Homo sapiens: one gene and its partner. The protein of the gene in region 1 interacts with the protein of each later gene in a biochemical or structural test. Each region holds a gene or a part of one and is shown in the gene's direction. Other genes may lie near its edges. The genes, in order: KLHL8 and RAPSN.

Region 1 (9,231 bases):
AATGTTGAACAGAACAGCAATTATTGAAAATTAACTTATGGTGATATTTTAATTATATAATGTTTATATATGTAACATTAATGATATGAATTTATTTGTTTGGAGTCAAATGAAAATACTTCTCTATTTGACAGGTAAAGTGTATGCAGTAGGTGGACATGATGGAAATGAACATTTAGGGAGTATGGAGATGTTTGATCCTCTCACTAATAAATGGATGATGAAGGCATCAATGAACACAAAGAGGTAGATCAGCATGGAAAGTTATTTTGAACTGATGGTGGAAATAAAGTTTCTTAAAATTTAAAGGCCTTATTTTAAACTTTTTTTTCTACTTTAGAAACTTTAAATACCTTCTCAAACACATTTTGTTAGCATGTCCAAAGTGATACTTTGTTAACACCTTTTATTTTTTTTAAGAATTAAAAATGCAGTCATGTTTTAGAGTACCATATGGTAGTCACAGTTTTCACTTATACATGAGCATTGATTTTTTTAAACATTTTATTTTGAGATAATTTTAGTTTATTCAGAGAAGTTGCAAAAATATTAAAGTTTCTGTGTACCAGTGGTTCTCAACTGAGGATGATTTTGTCCCCTCTATGGGACACTTGGCAGTGTCTGAAGACATTTTTGGTTGTCACAGCTTGGGGATGGGAAAATTGCTGCTAGCATCTATGGGAAGAAGTCAGAAATGATGCTAAAGATTCTATAATGCACAGCAAAGAATCTTCTAGTCCAAATGCCAGTGGCAAAGATAATCCCAAGTGCCAGTGGCAAAGATAATGCCAAATGCCAGTGCTGAGATGGCAAAACCTTGCCACCTACCCTGCACCTGGCTTCCCATAATGTTAACATGTTACACAGCCATAGCAGTTACTGAAATTAGCATTGAACAGTAGTATTAATTAATCTGTAGACTTTTTGAGTCAATTTTCCCAAACATCCTTATGCTTCTTACTGATTTTTCTTGTCTAATTGTATTGCCTAATAATCTAATACAGGTGAATAATGGCAGAGATAGTAGGTGTTTTTGTCTTGTTCCTGATCTTATTAGAAAAGTATCTAGTGTTTTGCTATTAAATAAGATACTGACTTTAGGACTAAGGTATCTATATTTTTATCATGTTAAGAAAATAGTCCTCAATTTCTCTTTTCTTCATTGATTTTTATCCTGATGAACAGTAATATTTTAAGTTCTCACCTACATATTTATGTTCTCATTTACATATTTATGTTCTAATATTTATATTCTCATCAACATAAACTGGAATATATGCTGATTAATGTATCAGTCTAAAGGGAAGATTTTTAGTAACATACTTAGTACTCTAACCTGTTTGACACTTTCATTAATGACTTGAATACCAGCTTTTTAGATATCCTAAGGTGGAAAGATCACTAAGGCATGTGACCAAATCAGGATTCCAAAGACGGAGTAGACCACATATACTCTAGACAAAAACCTAAAAAATGTTAAAATTAGAGTTATAGGTTAAAACCTGCCTTAGGTATTTTAAAAACTCAATCCCACGAGTACAACATAACATGGTGGGAAATCAGGTTTTTGATTGTTTCATATGGAGAAAAGTACCTGAACCATTATGAAACACAGCTCTTAAAAAAAAGGAAAGGAAAAAAGTGAATATAATACAGTTGCCTACATTAAAAGAAGTGAAGCCTTAGATTAAGGGAGTTATAGTTGTATTGTTCTTGACACTGATCTCTCCGTATCTATAGATGTATTGTTGAAGTAGGGTATATAACACCAGTTGGGGTATGGGAATAAAAGATTAGACTCTCTGTACATTTTTAAAAATTTATTTTGGGTGGATGTTTTATAATGAACATAACTTGTTAGTACAGTAACATGTTTATAATTTGAAAATAAGATCTATAGAAAATGCACAAAAATGGATTGTAATAAATGTGAGAATGATAATCTGGAATGCATGTAAGAAAAAACTAGCAGGTTAGTAATACAACTGAAAACCATGTTATCTACAAAAAATAGTTGAAGCGTTGTGATCTGGAGACAAGAAAACTTACAGGAGTTACTAGATATTTTAAGAGTGTATGTTGATTTAGTAGGAAGGAATAAATATTTGTTTATGATTCAGTATAGTAGCAATGAAGCATACTGTAATTCCTCCTAGTGATTGGAATTGTATTGTCAGAAAGATCACATATATTTTGCACCAAATGGGAGATTAAATTTTATTGCCTATTTTTTTTCAACTTTATTGTTCTGTTAATAGCGTGAGGATTTCAAAGACTGAGCTTAATAATTTGTATAAAACTAGATACTAGAATAATTCTGTCTCTGTGTCAGAGTGAAAATATAATGCGAGAAGAGAGAAGAGGGCTATCTTAGTAAATATTGAAAATATTGCTGAAGAGTTTCTTTTAATAAAACTGCAGGTGGGCCGGGCATGGTGGCTCATGCCTGTAATCCCAGCACTTTGGGAGGCCAAGATGGGCGGATCACCTGAGGTCAGGAGTTTGAGACCAGCCTGGCCAACATGGCAAAACACCGTCTCTACTAAAAATACAAAAATTAGCTGGGCGTGGTGGCGGGTGCCTGTAATCCCAGCTGCTGCGGAGGCTAAGGCATGAGAATCGCTTGAACCCAGGAAGTGGAGGTTGCAGTGAGCCGAGATTGCGCCATTGCACTCCAGTCTGGATGACAAGAGCAAAATTCCGTCTCAAAAAAAAAAAACTTGCAGGTGATATATATATATACACACACACATACACACATATATATGATATATAATGATACTGACCTTAATATATATAAATGTATCACCCACAGTTTAATTAAAAGAAACAAACCTGAACTAGTAAAACCATACCTGAGACATTGTGGCTTATATGGTTGGCAAATTAGCACCATTCTGCAAAAATGACTTGTTATCAAAATGAGCAATTAAAAACTAAACCACACATGGGGATATGTTGCCTCTAATTTTCTATTTTTGATTAATAATATTTTCAACTGGTTTTTGCTTCTTGTGTTAAAATATGAAAGATTAAAAAAAAATGTGAAGACATTTTAAGCTTTTTTTCCCCTCATGAAAAAGAATCCTAGAAAAAAAAAAAGCTAGTCTTAAACTGTTATCTCCCACTGTCTACAAATGACATTTTAATACTTTAATAGGGAGTGATTTACACTATGTGATAACTGCATGGATTAAAATGGGAGATAAAATCCCAAAGTACTTTTTTAATCTTTATATCCCTGTTACTATGTTGGTTTTTAGCCAAAGATTGAATGAAACTTCTCTAGCAAAATAGCAATTGAATTTCTTTAATCTTTTAAAATATGCCCCGAGCATTTACAATCTGTGTGAAAAATAATAGAGCTACAATTATTTTGTCATATTATTTGTTTATAACTTATATAGCCCCAAATCATCTTTTTGGCATTTCAATACATTTTCACATGTGAAATATCTGGTTATCTTTATTTTTTTATTTCATCTTTCCACTGAAATGGACACCGATGTTTGTTTAAGCTATGAGTCTGTTGAAACCCATCATCCTGACAGCATGTCTAAAGGTTCACTTATTTATTCAAAAAAAAGTTTTAAATGCCCACCACAAGACACACCAAGTGGTAAAGATACAACTTTGTTTTTTGCTACCAGCAGTAGAAAACATAGCCAGTGTCTCTGCCTCTGTATAGCTTACATTGTAGAAGAGAAGATAACAAATAATGACATAAGGGCAATAATATTAGCATGGGGTGAGTAAAGGGTGCTTGAGGAGTGGAGAACATCTTAATGAAGTCCCATTTATTATGATCTGAAGGAACTGCAGAATTTAGCCTGATTAAGTTATTATAGGTGGGGTAAGAGTGGTAAGTGGAGGGAGATGAAGAGCCTTCAAAAACCAGGCGATGAAAGAGAGCAAAGAGCATGAAAGTGGTCCAATGTAGTTGGAAGATTAAGGGGAAGAGTGTCTAGAAATGAGGCAGAAAGAGTAAGTAAAGGTTGAAGGCCTTTCAAGTTTGCCAAGGATATTTTATCTGATGGGCTTTGAATTAAACATATATATTTAATATGCATGTATAGTAAATATACATTTTATATTTTTATTTAAATAATAGGGGAATTGTAGGATCAGATTTCTCTTTTCAGAGAACTTCTGCATTCAAAATGGAGAAGGGATTTGAGGATGACCAGAGTGAAAACAGTCTGACAGACCAAAAAGGGTTATTGTAATTCTTCATCCCTTGATGTAAAGAAATAATGGTGGCTTAGACTATACTGATAGAAATTGAGATAGAGAAAAGAGGACATATTTGAAAGATAGTTCAGAGGTGTATGGTCAAAAACACTTTATGATAATTAGAAAGAACAGTTAGGTAGAGGCAAAGATGATTCTTCGGTTTCTGCCTTAAGCAACTGGATGGATAATGGTATGATTTCTGAATTAGGAAAACAACATGGTGAATGGGATAAAATTTTTGTTTGTTTTGTGATGGGGTTGTATTAATTTTCTATGTCCATGTAACAAATTGCCCCCAATTTAGCAGCTTAAAATAGCACCCATTTATTAGCTCACAGTTCAAAAGTCATGCAGGTTTTGCTAGGCTTTCTACTTAGGGTCCCACAAGGCCAGAATCAAGAGATTGGGCTAGGCTTTTGTCTGGAGGCACTGGGGAAGAAGCCACTTCCAGGGCCATTTAGGTTATTGATAGAATTCAGTTCCTTGTGGCTATAGGACTGTTTCTCATTTTTATTGGCTGTTGGCTACAAGTCACTGCCAGATCCTTCCCACATGTTCCCCCCCACCTTCAAACAAGCAATGGCACACTGCATTCACTTGGTTTTTTGAATTTCTGACAATCAGCTGGAGAAACCTCTCTGCTTTTGAAGGTTTGTTTGATTAGATTAGGCCCGCCAAGGTCACCTCCCTTTTGCCATATAATGTAGCATAGTCATGAGAGTAACACCAGGGGATGAAGGTCATGGGGGATGAGGAGTATCTTAAAATTCTGCCTACCACAGCGAGGTGGGCAGTGAGTTTCATTTCAGATTAAAGTTAAGGTTGAAGAGCCAGCAAGACATATTTGAGGTAGAAATTGGGTATATGTCTGAAAATATATATTTGAATTATCACAAATCTGTGGAAAGAATGGGATATGCTTAGGGAGAGAAAGTGTAGAGTGACCCTTAGGGAACTTTATAATTTAATGATGGAGTAAAGAAGGCACTGATGAAGCTGAAAAGCACTAGCCAGAGACGTAGGAGTGGACTAAAACGTATGATGTTATGAAAACCAAGAGAGTTTTGAGGAGTAGGAAATAAGCCAATGATGTTGTCTGCTTTTGTCCTTTAAGGGGAGGGACAATTATGAGGCATACTTACTTTATTTCCCTGACCTAACATCGTTACATTCTAGAGAACACATGTACTTGTTCTCACACACCTGAACATTTTTATCAGCACAGTATTTGGTAAGTCATAGCTTTATACCCAAGAGAAAAGAGGTTGAGGAGCTTGAAAGTGAATGATAACATTATCCTTAAGAATTCTTTTGTTGGATACTCTCTGGTAAATTTAGAGTTAGAATCTCAGTGAAGCAGCTGCTTTCTCCAATAATAATAAAAGCTAATACTTCATAGAACTAAATATGGGCCAGACATTGTTCTTAGTGCTTTACATGTATTAACTCATTAATATCCATCTATGTCTCAGATGAGACACAAGATAGTAGAGGTTTATAAATTATCCAAGCTAGTGACAAAATAATAGTTTGATAATAGTTCAACTTTTGATTGGTGCAGTGTGTTTTTTAAGAAATTGAGTTTTTTTTTTGATCACTGTTAAATCAGCTTTTAACATGGGCTAAGTCTCTTACTTTTAGAGAGAAATAAATACGCTTCAGAAATAAAGCAACGTGACATAAAACTTGTAATATAAAATTTAATACTCTTTTGTGTGGTATAATGAAACCCTGCAACAAAATGAGCTCTGTAATTGCATGGATTTGTAAGTGAGATTGGCTTCTGACCTCCGCTGCAGAACTTCTCTGTCAACTCATTAACCTCTCAGTTATGCCGCTGTGTGTGCACTAATTGAATATTTTGAACTCTTTTATACTATTTTGTTGGGTTATATTTTATTGTTTTGAGTTTAAAGTAGCCTGTGTAGGCTATGCACTGTACAACTTCAGGGGGCAGTATTCACATAGAGTTGCACAGTTTGGCAATTCTGTAGCCATCTAGTCAAAAGCTTTGATAGATCTAAAAATAATGGAAACAAACTATACTGTTTGAAGGTTAACATGATAAATGATTTGCATTAGCACAATTTTTTATATGACTTTTTTTCCTGGAAACAAACTCATTTGCTAAAGTATGTTTTATTGTCTTTGCAGGCGAGGAATTGCCTTGGCTTCCTTAGGAGGCCCAATTTATGCAATTGGAGGGTTAGATGACAATACTTGCTTCAATGATGTGGAGAGATATGACATAGAATCTGATCAGTGGAGTACAGTGGCACCAATGAATACTCCCCGTGGAGGAGTTGGCTCTGTTGCTCTAGTAGTAAGTTATATGGCAACTTGTCATTAAATTACATTGCATTACATTCATAACCAAAATAAGGAAAGGTCCAATATATCATCACCAGTATGAAGATATTATATATCATATTATTTCCTGAAATACTGCCTTGTACATTCTAATTTACCATTAAAACAATATATAAATAAATTCGAAATCTAATGTGTTTTGTTTGACTCTCTTCATTTAGAACCATGTTTATGCAGTAGGTGGCAATGATGGAATGGCTTCTTTATCTAGCGTGGAGAGATATGATCCACATCTGGATAAGTGGATAGAAGTTAAAGAAATGGGTCAGCGAAGAGCAGGCAATGGAGTTAGCAAGCTTCATGGTTGCTTATACGTAGTTGGTGAGTAAATGGGTATTTCTCTAATATATCAGTATATACAATGACAAGTGTCATATAACAGAGTAACAAAAATTACATTGCATTTAGCCTTAAGTAGAATCGGTCCTGAAATGTGCTTTTGAATTCTTTCTTACAAAATTTTGTTTATAATTAACAGAGAATTGTACATGTTCAGTCTGATGCTTTTGAATTCTTTGTTTTTTTTTTTTTCAGAGGGAGACAGTGTCTTTCTGTTGCCCAGGCTGAAGTGCGGTGGCACAATCGTAGCTCACTGCAGCCTTGAACTCCTGGGCTCACATGATCCTCCTGCCTCAAGCCTCTCAAGTAGCTAGGACTAGAGGCCCAGGCTATCACACCCAGCCAGTTTTTTTCTGTTTTTTGTAGAGATGGGTTCTTGCTGTGTTGCCCAGGCTGGTCATGAACAACTGGCCTTAGGTGATCCTCCTGCCTTGCCCTCCCAGAGTGCTGGGATTACAGGCATGGGCCATCATGCCTAGCTGAATTGTTAAGGTCACATTCATAATTTTTGTTTAAATCTTCATCTTTCATGTTTAAAACATGTACAGCCTTATTTTTCTAAGAGTAACAAATTTATTTAAAGAAGGGGATTACATTTAAATAAGGTATATGTTTTTAAATGGAAGGACACAGATTGAATGTGCTTTGCTACAATAAATTTTAAAAGGTCTCAGATTTGTTTTTCTCAACCTCATTTCAAGGGAAATTATGTTGAATACTTCAAGTAAGCCAGTAGGTATTTATTTATTTATTTTTGAGATAGAGTTTTGCTCTGTCACCCAGGCTGGAGTGCAGTGGTATGATCTCAGCTCACTGCAACCTCTGCCACACATGTTCAAGCAATTCTCCTGCCTCAGCCTTCTGAGTAACTGGGATTACAGGTGTGTGCTACCGTGCCCAGCTAATTTTTGTATTTTTAGTAAAGACAGGGTTTCATCGTGTTTGCCAGGCTGATCTTGAACTCCTGACCTCAAGTGATCTTCCTGCCTTGGCCTCCCAAAGTGCTGGGATTACAGGCATGAGCCACCACACCTGGCCTAGGTATTTCATATAAATAAAGGTCATGTCAATGTTTATATTGCTTTTTTTTTTTTTTTTACTTTAACAATCTTTTATTACCAAACCCCATGCAGGTTTAACGCTTTAACCCACCTAACAGCAAAAAAAGGCATTGCTAACAAGATCAAGGATGAAGGTACAGACCCAATAAAGATTGTGTCTTAAAAAAGAAGGATATATATATATGTGTGTGTATATATATGTGTGTATATATACGTATATATATACACATATATATACACACACATATATACACGTATATATACACACATATATATACGTATATATATACACATATATATACGTATATATATACACACATATATACACACATATATATACATATATATATCTTTTAAAAAATAAAAATCTCCAGTGTTGCAGAAAAAAATATTATAAATTGATTTCAGTCCATAAAAAACAGCATGCAGCAGTTTGTGCTATCTTAAAAACCCCAACTCAGGATAACCCTAGGAGAAAATCACCTCCCCCCATTAAAGAAGAATTCTCTTTTCTATTCTTTCTTGTCTAAATTTCACTGCTTATTCCACAAAACGCCGAAAGAATAACAAGACTCAGTTCACATCCCTCAGCCCTTGTCTGTCTGTTAAGGCCAACACCAAGCGCTGTTCCTTAGGAGTCTTCACCTTTACTACAATCAGAAAATTGAGCCCTAATTTCACGGCCAGATTTCTAGAAACCTGCAAAACCCTCATAGTTCCCTCAAGGAAGGACCTGAAGGCCCCTTGAAAGATCAAGGGAGTATAAGTGTACTTGGCAGAGACTGGAATGCCTGCCAGGCTGGGAAAAGGGGGCCTTTCTACACAAAAACACCCCCTAAAATACCTTGTAGTTGAAAGTCTAACTAGGCAAAACCAAGTAACAGCAGGCATCAAACTATGGTTCTACCTAAAGGGTATATATCTTCCCCCTTTAACCATAAAGGTAAGGCGGGGGGCGGGGTGTGGGGTAAAGAGAGCCAAGTGAGCATTTGACTTCATCTGTCTTCTGAGAAGTTAGCATATTTTAGGCTGAAGCCATGTTGTAGAGACATTTGGCCAAAGGATAGTCTTTGCTATGTGTGGCTATATAAAGCTGCCATTTCTGGGCAACCTGGTTCATGGCTGCTTTATGGAAGCTTTACCCCTTATGCAGAGTATTTAAGAATTAATAGGAAATTTTTCAGTTTGATTTTGTAAGTGACAAATACTTTAACAACAGCTTCCCAAT
Region 2 (9,562 bases), on another chromosome or scaffold:
TGAACCCGGGAGGTGGAGGTTGCAGTGAGCCAGGATTGCGCCACTGCACTCCAGCCTCGGCAACAGAGCTAGATTCCATCTCAAAAAAAAAAAAAAAAAGAACGAGACTCTACAACCACACTGCTTCTGGTCCCAGCTGTCTAGGACCAGCAGATGGCAGTGTAGTCTTGGGCAGGTCACCTTACCTCTCCATGCCTGTTTCCTCATTTGTAAACTGGAAGAAATGCTTAACTCAGAAAATGTTAGAATGTTAAATAGGATTCTCTGTTGGTCTCCTCTTACCTTGCCAGGGGCCGTGCCGTTAGTTACTAGTAGTACAAAGACAAGTAAACCACAGTCGTTGCCATAGAGGAGCATGCCCTTAACCTAACTACAGTCGCTGATTTCTGGAAAACGTGCTCAGAAATGAAATTTTTGAGGCCGGGCATGGTGGCTCACGGGAGGCTGAGGCGGGCAGATCACTTAAGGCCAAAAGTTCGAGACCAGCCTGGCCAACATGGTGGAACCCCGTCTCTACTAAAACTGCAAAACTTAGCCAGGTGTAGTGGTGCTCGCCTGTAATTCCAGCTTCTTGGGAGGCTGAGGCAGGAGAATTGCTTGAACCCAGGAGGCAGAGGTTGCAGTGAGCCGAGATCCCACTGTGTCCGCAGTTGGTTCCTTCTAGTGGGTTCGTGGTCCCGCTGACTTCAAGAATGAAGCCGTAAACCTCTGTGGTGAGTGTTACAGCTATTAAAGGTGGTGCAGACCCAAAGAGTGAGCAACAGCAAGATTTATTGTGGAGAGCAAAAGAACAAAGCTCCCACAGCGTGGAACGGAACCTAAGCGGGTTTCTGCTGCTGGCTTGTTGGGGTGGGGATGGGCTGGTCGGGGAGGCAGCTTTTATTCCTTTATTTGTCTCCACCCATGTCCTGCTGATTGGCCCATTTTACAGAGCACTGATTGGTCCATTTTACAGGGTGCTGATTGGTCCATTTTACAAATCTCCAGCTAGCTACGGAGCACCGATTGGTGTGTTTTTACAGAGCACTGATTGGTGCATTTTACAAACCTCTAGTTAGCTACAGAAAAGTTCTCCTAGTCACCACTCCACCCAGGAAGTCCAGCTGGCTTCACCTCTCACCACCACGGGCACTCCAGCCTGGGCGACAAGAGTGAAAAACTCCATCTCAAAAAAAAAAATAATAATAAAGAAGAAATGAAATGTTTCAAGGAAACATAAGGTACTCTGCTACCTAGAATAAGCGAGTATGGGCATATTCCCATCACTGAAGTCAGATGAGCAAAGACCTGTCTCAGGGAAAGGACAGCTTGATCCCATCAAGTTTTCAAGTTTTGAGGTCATTTGAGTTCCCCAGGAAAGAGGAAGGCTGTGGTCCCCAACTCTGTTGGGGTGTAGATGCAGGCCGCCCTTCCTCCATTCCTTCCTGCCAGAGACTCAATGTGAATAGTGTCTGGGCCTTGGAGTGGGGAGAATCTGCTGGCCCTTCACACCTTCGCTGTGGGCCCAGCTTCCCTCCCATCTGCAGCTCAGCATCAACCCAGGCCTCCCTGAGATGAGAGAAGACCCCAGCCAGCTCTCCCTCCCTTTCCCAGGCTTAGGAGCACTCCTTTGGGGAGTCCAGGTGGCCTTGCCCAGCCACCTGTCCCAGAGCCTGCTCCCACTCTGCCTCTGTTGAGCCTGGGGCATTTGCCTTCTGACCCCCAGAGCGTCCCCTCTGACCCGTTGGGCTCTCAGGAAGCAGGCCGTGTAGTTGCTCTGAATTTCCCGGTGAAGCCGTCTTTCCTCCGCTTCTTCCCCATTCACCGATATTTGACATTTATTGAGGGGCCACAGTGTGCCGGGCCTTGCTCTGGGAATACAGTCAGTAATGAAGGAGACAAAGTCCTGCCCTGGGTTAGGGCCCAGCCATATGACCTCATTTGAGTGAAGAATAAAGACATTCAGCAAACAACCTCACTAATATAAAATTATAGAGAGGCTGGGCGTGGTGGCTCACGCCTGTAATCCCAGCACTTTGGGATGCCCAGGCCAGCGGATCACTTGAGCACAGGAGTTCAAAACCAGCCTGGCCAACATGGTGAAACCCCGTCTCTACTAAAAATATAAAAATTAGCTGGGCATGGTGGCATTGCCTGTAATGCCAGCTACTTGCGAGGGTTGAGGTGGGAGGGTGGCTTGAGCCCAGGAGGTCGAGGCCTCAGTGAGCCTAGATTGTACCACTGCACTCCAGCCTGGGCGACAAAGTGAGACCCTGTCTCAAAATAAAATTATAGAGATAAGTCCTGTATCAGAATGCAGTGTAATTCAATGAGAGGATAATATGCTGATTCATCCTAATTATGACTTACGAGGCAGAGTGTGGGTGTGGTGAACAGAGAAGGAATTAGGAGGTGCAAAGGCCCTGGGGCAGACAGGTAGGCAGGTACCAGAATGTAACAGTTGCCATATTACTCACACTTCTGCTCCAAGCATATACCTAAGAGAAATGAAAACATGTCCCCATAAAACCTAGTACATGAATTTTTTATTTTTTTGAAACAGGGTCTCGCTCTGTCACCCAGGCTGGAGTGTAGTGACATGATTGCGGCTCACTGCAGTCCAAGCTTGTAGGCTCAAGCGATTCTCCTGCCTCAGCCTCGCGAGTAGCTGGGACCACAGCTGTGCACCACCACACCCAGCTAATTTTTTTTTTTTTTTGTATTTTTTGTAGATATGGGGTCTCGCTATGTTTCCCAAGCTGGTCTCCAACTCCTGGGCTCAAGTGATCTGCCTGCTTCAGCCTCCTAGTGTGCTGGGATTACAGGCGTGAGCCACCGTGCCCAGCCCAATTTGTACATGAATTTTTATAGCATCATTATTCATAGTAGCCAAAAATGAAACAACCCAAATGCCTATTAACTGCTGAATCAACAAAATGTATATCCAGACAATGAGTATTAACCAACCACAATAAGTAATGAAGTTCTGATACGGTTGAAAACATAGTTGAATCTTGAAAACATTATGCCAAGTTAAAGAAGCCAGTCACAGATGACCACATATTGTATGATTCCATTCCTGTGAAGGGTCCACAATAGACAGGTCCATAGACACCAGGTGGCTTAAATAACAGAAATTTATTTTCTCACAGTTCTGGACGCTAGAAGTCCAAGATCAAGGAATTGGCAGAGTTGGTTTCATTCTAAGGCCTTGCTCCTGGGCTTGTAGATAGCCATCTTCTCCCTGTGTCTTCACGTGCTCTTCTTCTGTGTGACTGTGTCCTTTTTAAACATTTATTGTGGGCCAGGTGCGGGGGCTCACGCCTGTAATCCCAACACTTTGGGAGGCAGAGGTGGGCAGATCATGAAGTCAGGAGTTCCAGACCAGCCTGACCAACATGGTGAAACCCCGTCTCTACTAAAAATACAAAAATTAGCCAGGTGTGGTGGTGCGCAGCTGTAATCCCAGCTACTCAGGAGGCTGAGGCAGGAGAATCACTTGAACCTGGGAGGTGAAGGTTGCAGTGAGCCAAGATGGCACCACCACACTCCAGCCTGGGTGACAGAGGGAAAGTGTCTCAAAAAAAAAAAAAAGTATTGTGGTCAGGCATGGTGGCTCACGCCTATAACCCCAATACTTCGGGAGGCTCTGAGGCAGGTGGATCAACTGAGGTCAGAAGTTCAAGACCAGCCTGACCAACATGGTGAAACCCCGTCTCTACTAAATACAAAAACTTAGCCAGGCGTGGTGGCATACACCTGTCATCCCAGCTACTTGGGAGGCTGAGGCAGGAGAATTGCTTGAACCCGGGAGGTAGAAGTCTCAGTGAGCTGAGATTGTGCCACTGCACTCCAGCCTATGCAACAAGAGCAAAACTCCGTCTCAAAAATAATTTTTAAAAATAAAAATTTATTGTTTATTTATTTTTTGAGACAAGGTCTTGCTCTGGTGCTCAGGCTGGAGTGCAGTGGCACAATCACGGCTCACTGAAACCTCCACCTCCAGGAGTTCAAGACCAGCCTGGGCAACATGGTGAAACCCATCTCTACAAAAACTAGACAGCTGTGGTCTCAGCTACCCAGGAGACTGAGGTGGGAGGGTCACTTGAGCCTAGGAGGTAGAGGTTGCAGTGAGCTGTGACTGCACCACTGCACTCCAGCCTAGGTGACAGAGTGAGACCCTGTCTCAAAAAAAAGGGGGGGGGGATACCAGTCTTAACTGGATGAGGTACAATGTGACTTCATTTTACCTTAATCACCCTTTAAAGACCCTGTCTCCAAAGACAGTCACCTTATGAGATACTGAGTGTTAGGACTTAAACATATGCGTTTGGTTGCGGGGGGACATGATTCAGTCATATCAAGGTGGGGAATGGAGTGGTGTAACTGCTGATGGGTGTGCGTCTCCTTTTTGGGGTGGTTAAAATGTTCTGGAATTAGTGGCAATTAATGTGCATCTCTGTGAATATACTAAAAACCACTGAATTGCCCAGCCAGAAAGGATAAACTTTTGCCCTGGGGCAGGAAGAAGGCTGGCATGCAGAGAGAGGAGAAAGGGGGGCTGGATGAGCTGGCCTGCTAGCGGGGGCCCCAATACTACATAAGACCTTGCCCTTCTCCACAGTATCTGGTGTTAAATCTCATTATGAGGACCCTTTCAGCCCGGGGTTGGGATTGGAAGTGAGACATTGAAACTTCAAGGGCTGGGTTCTGGCCCGGGTGGGGATTTGCCATGGAGCAAAATAGCCTCTTGCAGCACATGCGGGGTTTCCTGTGCCGGGCACTGTCCTAAGTCCTTCTCAACTCTTTCGTCATTGAGTTCTCATAGCAGTCCAGTGAGCCAGGTACCATTCCTCTCTTCAGTCCACGGTGCCAGGTCACTTGGCTAGGGTCCCACTGAGAGTTCGAAGGAAGCCAGGCTAGAGCTCAGGCCTCTCACCAGCTGGAGGTCTTTCCCAGACTCTCTAAGGTGAGAGTTGGTGAATGGTGTCAGCCTGGGCCTGGATGAGTGACCCACGGTGCTCAGTGAATTTCAGGAACAGAGCCAGGGGATGCTGCGGTCAGGGGTGTCTTGATGGGGAAGAAGCAGGGCTGGGCGCTCACCTGGCTTCCCCGGACCTGCAGGTCCAGCCTCGCTCTCCTTCCCCCGAGCACCTCTAGCCCAAGGCCTGCCCACTTGCTGGAGCTGGCCCCTTGGCAAGGCTGCTGGGAGGGCCCGTGCTGCCAGGGCGGTCAGGGTCAGTGTCAGAGGTGCCTAAGGGACGCCCAAGGGGGTGCCCAGGTGGCAAGGTGCCTGTATGCTCAGGGAAGCCACGTCCCAGCTCGCGGGTGGGTGCAGCAGAGGCCCACGTGACCTTGCTGCTGACATTCCTCAGAGGCCATGTGGCCCCAACTGGCAGCGACAGCTGCAGACGGGCTGAACCAGCTTTGTTCCCAGGGTGGCGCCTGCTCTCCATCCAGGCCCCATTCCGGCTCCCACCCGACGCTGCTTTTGTTCCCACGTTTCGGGGGGCAGCTGGCACTGTGATTCCTGCCCCATGAGTGCCTAGAGGCACGGAGCCACCAGGGATCACCCCACGTGGGACACAGGGCTTGGGGAGGATGGGGCAGGACCAGACCAAGCAGCAGATCGAGAAGGGGCTCCAGCTGTACCAGTCCAACCAGACAGAGAAGGCATTGCAGGTGTGGACAAAGGTGCTGGAGAAGAGCTCGGACCTCATGGGGCGCTTCCGCGTGCTGGGCTGCCTGGTCACAGCCCACTCGGAGATGGGCCGCTACAAGGAGATGCTGAAGGTGGGTGTACCCGGCCTGGGGGCGTTCGAGGGTCAGGCTGGGGCCGGATGTCTCCCAGGCTCCCCAGTCCCCTCTCGGCCTCCTCGGGCTCCCCTGTGTCCCACAGGCTGGCAGCCAGGGCCCGAGGCTCTGAATTTATATCTAAGGCCCTGGGTCTTAGATACTGAGTCTTGGCATCAGATTCAGGCCTGTGGCCTTGAACTGTGGTGCCCGAGTCTCTGAGACTGAGGTTCTCCAGCCTCAGGGTCGAGGGTTTGTGGGTCTCAAGCCCATTGTAGGTTTCAGCCTTCCTGTCTGGTGTTCTGTGTCTGAGCCTGGCGGGGTGTGGGCTCCAGGGTTGCGGCTGGGGGTGGGTGGGTGGTGGAGACTCCAGATCTGAGGCTTGGGATAGAAGGTGAAGGCTGCAAGCCTGAGCTTGGGAGGTGAGGCTGGGGTGTAGGGAAGGTAGCTGAGGCTGGCGGGTAGAAGCTCTGGGTCTGAAAAGAAGCTTTGGGATCTGCTGCTTTGGGTGTGAGGCTGGGGGGTGGGTGTGGGGCCTCCAGGTCTGAGCCTGCAGTGCAGGCTGGGGTCCAAGGCTCAGAGTCCAGGCTGAGCACCACCTGCCCACCGTCGCTGTGTGCAGTTCGCTGTGGTCCAGATCGACACGGCCCGGGAGCTGGAGGATGCCGACTTCCTCCTGGAGAGCTACCTGAACCTGGCACGCAGCAACGAGAAGCTGTGCGAGTTTCACAAGACCATCTCCTACTGCAAGACCTGCCTTGGGCTGCCTGGTACCAGGGCAGGTGCCCAGCTCGGAGGCCAGGTCAGCCTGAGCATGGGCAATGCCTTCCTGGGCCTCAGCGTCTTCCAGAAGGCCCTGGAGAGCTTCGAGAAGGCCCTGCGCTATGCCCACAACAATGATGACGCCATGCTCGAGTGCCGCGTGTGCTGCAGCCTGGGCAGCTTCTATGCCCAGGTCAAGGTGGGCCTGCACCCCAGGGGGACAGCAGTGGAGGGTTTTGGGGCTCCCCTCTCATGAGGCACACACCCTGTGGCACTACCTCATTCAGCCCTCCTTTTAGGGAGGGCTGAGGAGAGTGAGAATCAGAGAGCAAAAAGGCTTATCCAGGAAGGTAACAACTTGGCCAGGAAGCCAGCAAGGGCAGAGCCAGGATTCAAACCTTGATCTGTGTGACTTCCTGGAGGAATAATGGGAGGCTCCTCTGTGAGGACAGGCCAGCGGCCTGCACTGCCATGTTTGCTGTGTGGTCTTGGGCAAGTCACCTATCCTCTCTGAACCTTGGGAGAGATCTGTAAAATGAAGGAGAATAGGACTCACCTTACAGTGGGGTTGTATGGAGTCAGTCATCAAATATTTATTGACCAGCTACTGTATCCCAAGACTGTTGACCCAGGGTGTAGCAGTGAGAAAAACAGCCAAGTCCCCGTCCTCACGAGGGTTGCATTCTAGTTGGAGAAGAAAGACGATCAACACAGTCAGGAAGTCAAGTGGTTAGGAGAAAGCGAAGCGGGGCAAAGGGCTGGCAGCACTGGGCGTGGGGGTGTCATAATTTCAAATATAGTGGTCGGAGGGCCTCGCAGAGGTGATGTTTGATGGCTTGAAGAAGAGAGGGTGTGCCATGCAAAAATCTGGTGAGAGAGCATTCTAGGCAAAAATGGGCGAGCCCCTAAAGCCAAGCTGGACCCTGGGGGAGCATCCTGGAATGTTTCCTGGAATGTTCCAGGAAGGACAGAGGCCAGCATGGCTGCCAGGCGTGTCTCAGGTGTGTGCGGAGGTAGGGAGGTGAGAGGAGGAGGGCCAACTGTGAAGGAACTGATAGGATCAGCCACAGCAGGTTCTGATCCTGGGTATTTTTTGGCGGGGGCAGGGGCGGAGTTTTGCTCTTGTCACCCAGGCTGGAGTGCAGTGGTGCCATCTCGGCTCACTGCAACCTCCGCCTCCTGGGTTCAAGCGATTCTCCTGCCCCAGCCTCCCAAGTAGCTGGGACTACAGGCGTATACCACCACGCCCGGCTAATTTTTGTGTTTTTAGTAGAAATGGGGTTTCACCATGTTGGCCAGGCTGGTCTTGAACTCCTGACCTCAGGGATCCGCCCGTCTTGGCCTCCCAAAGTGCTGGGATTACAGGCGTGAGCCACCGCACCCGGCCAACCCTGGGTATTTTTGTTCCCTTTCCCCTCAGGTATCTGTGCTGTGCTTGGTCCATGGGGGATTTAATGCCTGGCCCCAGTAGATGCTTAATAAATCTTGGAGTTAGTGAGTGGATAAATGCTGATGGATCCAAGGTGGGATGGGAGGAAACGAGTCACCAAGGATGACAGCCAGGACTTTGTTTTTAGGAAGCAGATGTAAGGGGGAGCCATTCAGTGAGATGAGATAGGACTGGGGCAGGACAGGGGTTTTTAAAAACCTTTTTAATTCTGAAGAAAAGTAAGCTAGGCCTGGTGGCTCACACTTGTAATCCCAGCACTTTGAGAAGCTGAGGGGTGAGGATCGCTCAAGACCAGGAGTTCCAGACCAGCGTCTACAAACAGTTTTTTTTTTTTTTTAATTTGGCAAGGCTCATGCCTATAATCTGAGCACTTTGAGAGGCCAAGCAGAAGGATTGCTTGAGCCCAGGAGTTTGAGAGCAGCTTGAGTCGCATAGCAAGACCCCATCTGCACCAAACTTTAAAAATGAACCAGACATGGTGGCTCACACCTATTGTTTCAGCTACTCAGGAGGCTGAGGCGGGAGGATCGCTTGAGCCCAGGAGTTTGAGGCTGCAGTGAGCCATGAGTGTTCCACTGCATTCCAGCCTGGGCAACAGAGCAAGACCCTGTGTGAGAGAAAAAAAAAAAAAGCCCAAGTGTGGGCTTGTGGGGTGTTCATTGCTAGTGGGATGTCCGTGCTTCTAAATCTTTTCAGTTATCAGAATAATGGAAGTTTATACTGACATTTCCAATTCAAATCTAATGTTTCAGGAGCTCCCCTTAACTTATTTTAAACTTGATTGTCTTTTCTCTTAGATGAAAAATCTTAGTTTCTAACCACATAATTAAATATTTGCTTTACCCTACAAAATACGTAAAATAATTCCAAAAGACAATACCAATATTACTCTAGAAAATAAAGACAACTGAATGAAGTTTAAGATTTCTTTGCTGTTCTTTTGGCTTTTTTTTTTTTTTTTTTTTTTGAGACAGTCTCGCTCTGTTGCCTAGGCTGGAGTGCAGTGGCTCGATCTCGGCTCACTGCCACTTCTGCCTCCCGGGTTCAAGCGATTCTCCTGGCTCAGCCTCCCGAGTAGCTGGGACTACCGGCACACGCCACTATGCCCAGCTAATTTTCTGTATTTTTAGTAGAGACGGGGTTTCACCATGTTGGCCAGGATGGTCTCAATCTCTTGACCTGGTGATCCACCCGCTTCAGCCTCCCAAAGTGCTGGGATTACCGGTGTGAGCCACTGTGCCCAGCCTTGTTTTTGTAATGTATCCCACTATGGGTAAACTGAGTACTTTTGTTCCAAAGTCATTGAAATAATATATATATATTTTTTTTTAGAGACGGAGTCTTACTCTGTCACCCAGGCTGGAGTGCAGTGGCACGATCTCGGTCACTGCACCCTCCGCCTCCCGGGTTCACGCCATTCTCCTGCCTCAGCCTCCCGAGTAGCTGGGACTACAGGCGCCTGCCACCACGCCCCGCTAATTTTTTTTGTGTGTGTATTTCTAGTAGAGACGGGGTTTCACCATGTTAGCCAGGATGGTCTGGATCTCTTGACCTTGTAGTCCACCCGCCTTGGCCTCC

The links.
Region 2: of the proteins of KLHL8 (region 1) and RAPSN, one has a biochemical effect on the other in vitro, tested with the Homo sapiens proteins (one study listed by BioGRID).

The regions. Positions count from the first base shown.
Region 1 is NC_000004.12:87,167,772-87,177,002, reverse strand, and holds part of KLHL8 (kelch-like protein 8), read left to right. Parts: intron 1-134; coding exon 135-246; intron 247-6,387; coding exon 6,388-6,556; intron 6,557-6,764; coding exon 6,765-6,924; intron 6,925-9,071; exon of another isoform or gene 9,072-9,231. UniProt on the Homo sapiens protein: Substrate-specific adapter of a BCR (BTB-CUL3-RBX1) E3 ubiquitin ligase complex required for The BCR(KLHL8) ubiquitin ligase complex mediates ubiquitination and degradation of RAPSN.
Region 2 is NC_000011.10:47,444,983-47,454,544, reverse strand, and holds the start of RAPSN (43 kDa receptor-associated protein of the synapse), read left to right. Parts: upstream 1-5,408; 5' UTR 5,409-5,580; coding exon 5,581-5,772; intron 5,773-6,394; coding exon 6,395-6,733; intron 6,734-7,107; exon of another isoform or gene 7,108-7,218; intron 7,219-9,562. UniProt on the Homo sapiens protein: Postsynaptic protein required for clustering of nicotinic acetylcholine receptors (nAChRs) at the neuromuscular junction. It may link the receptor to the underlying postsynaptic cytoskeleton, possibly by direct association with actin or spectrin.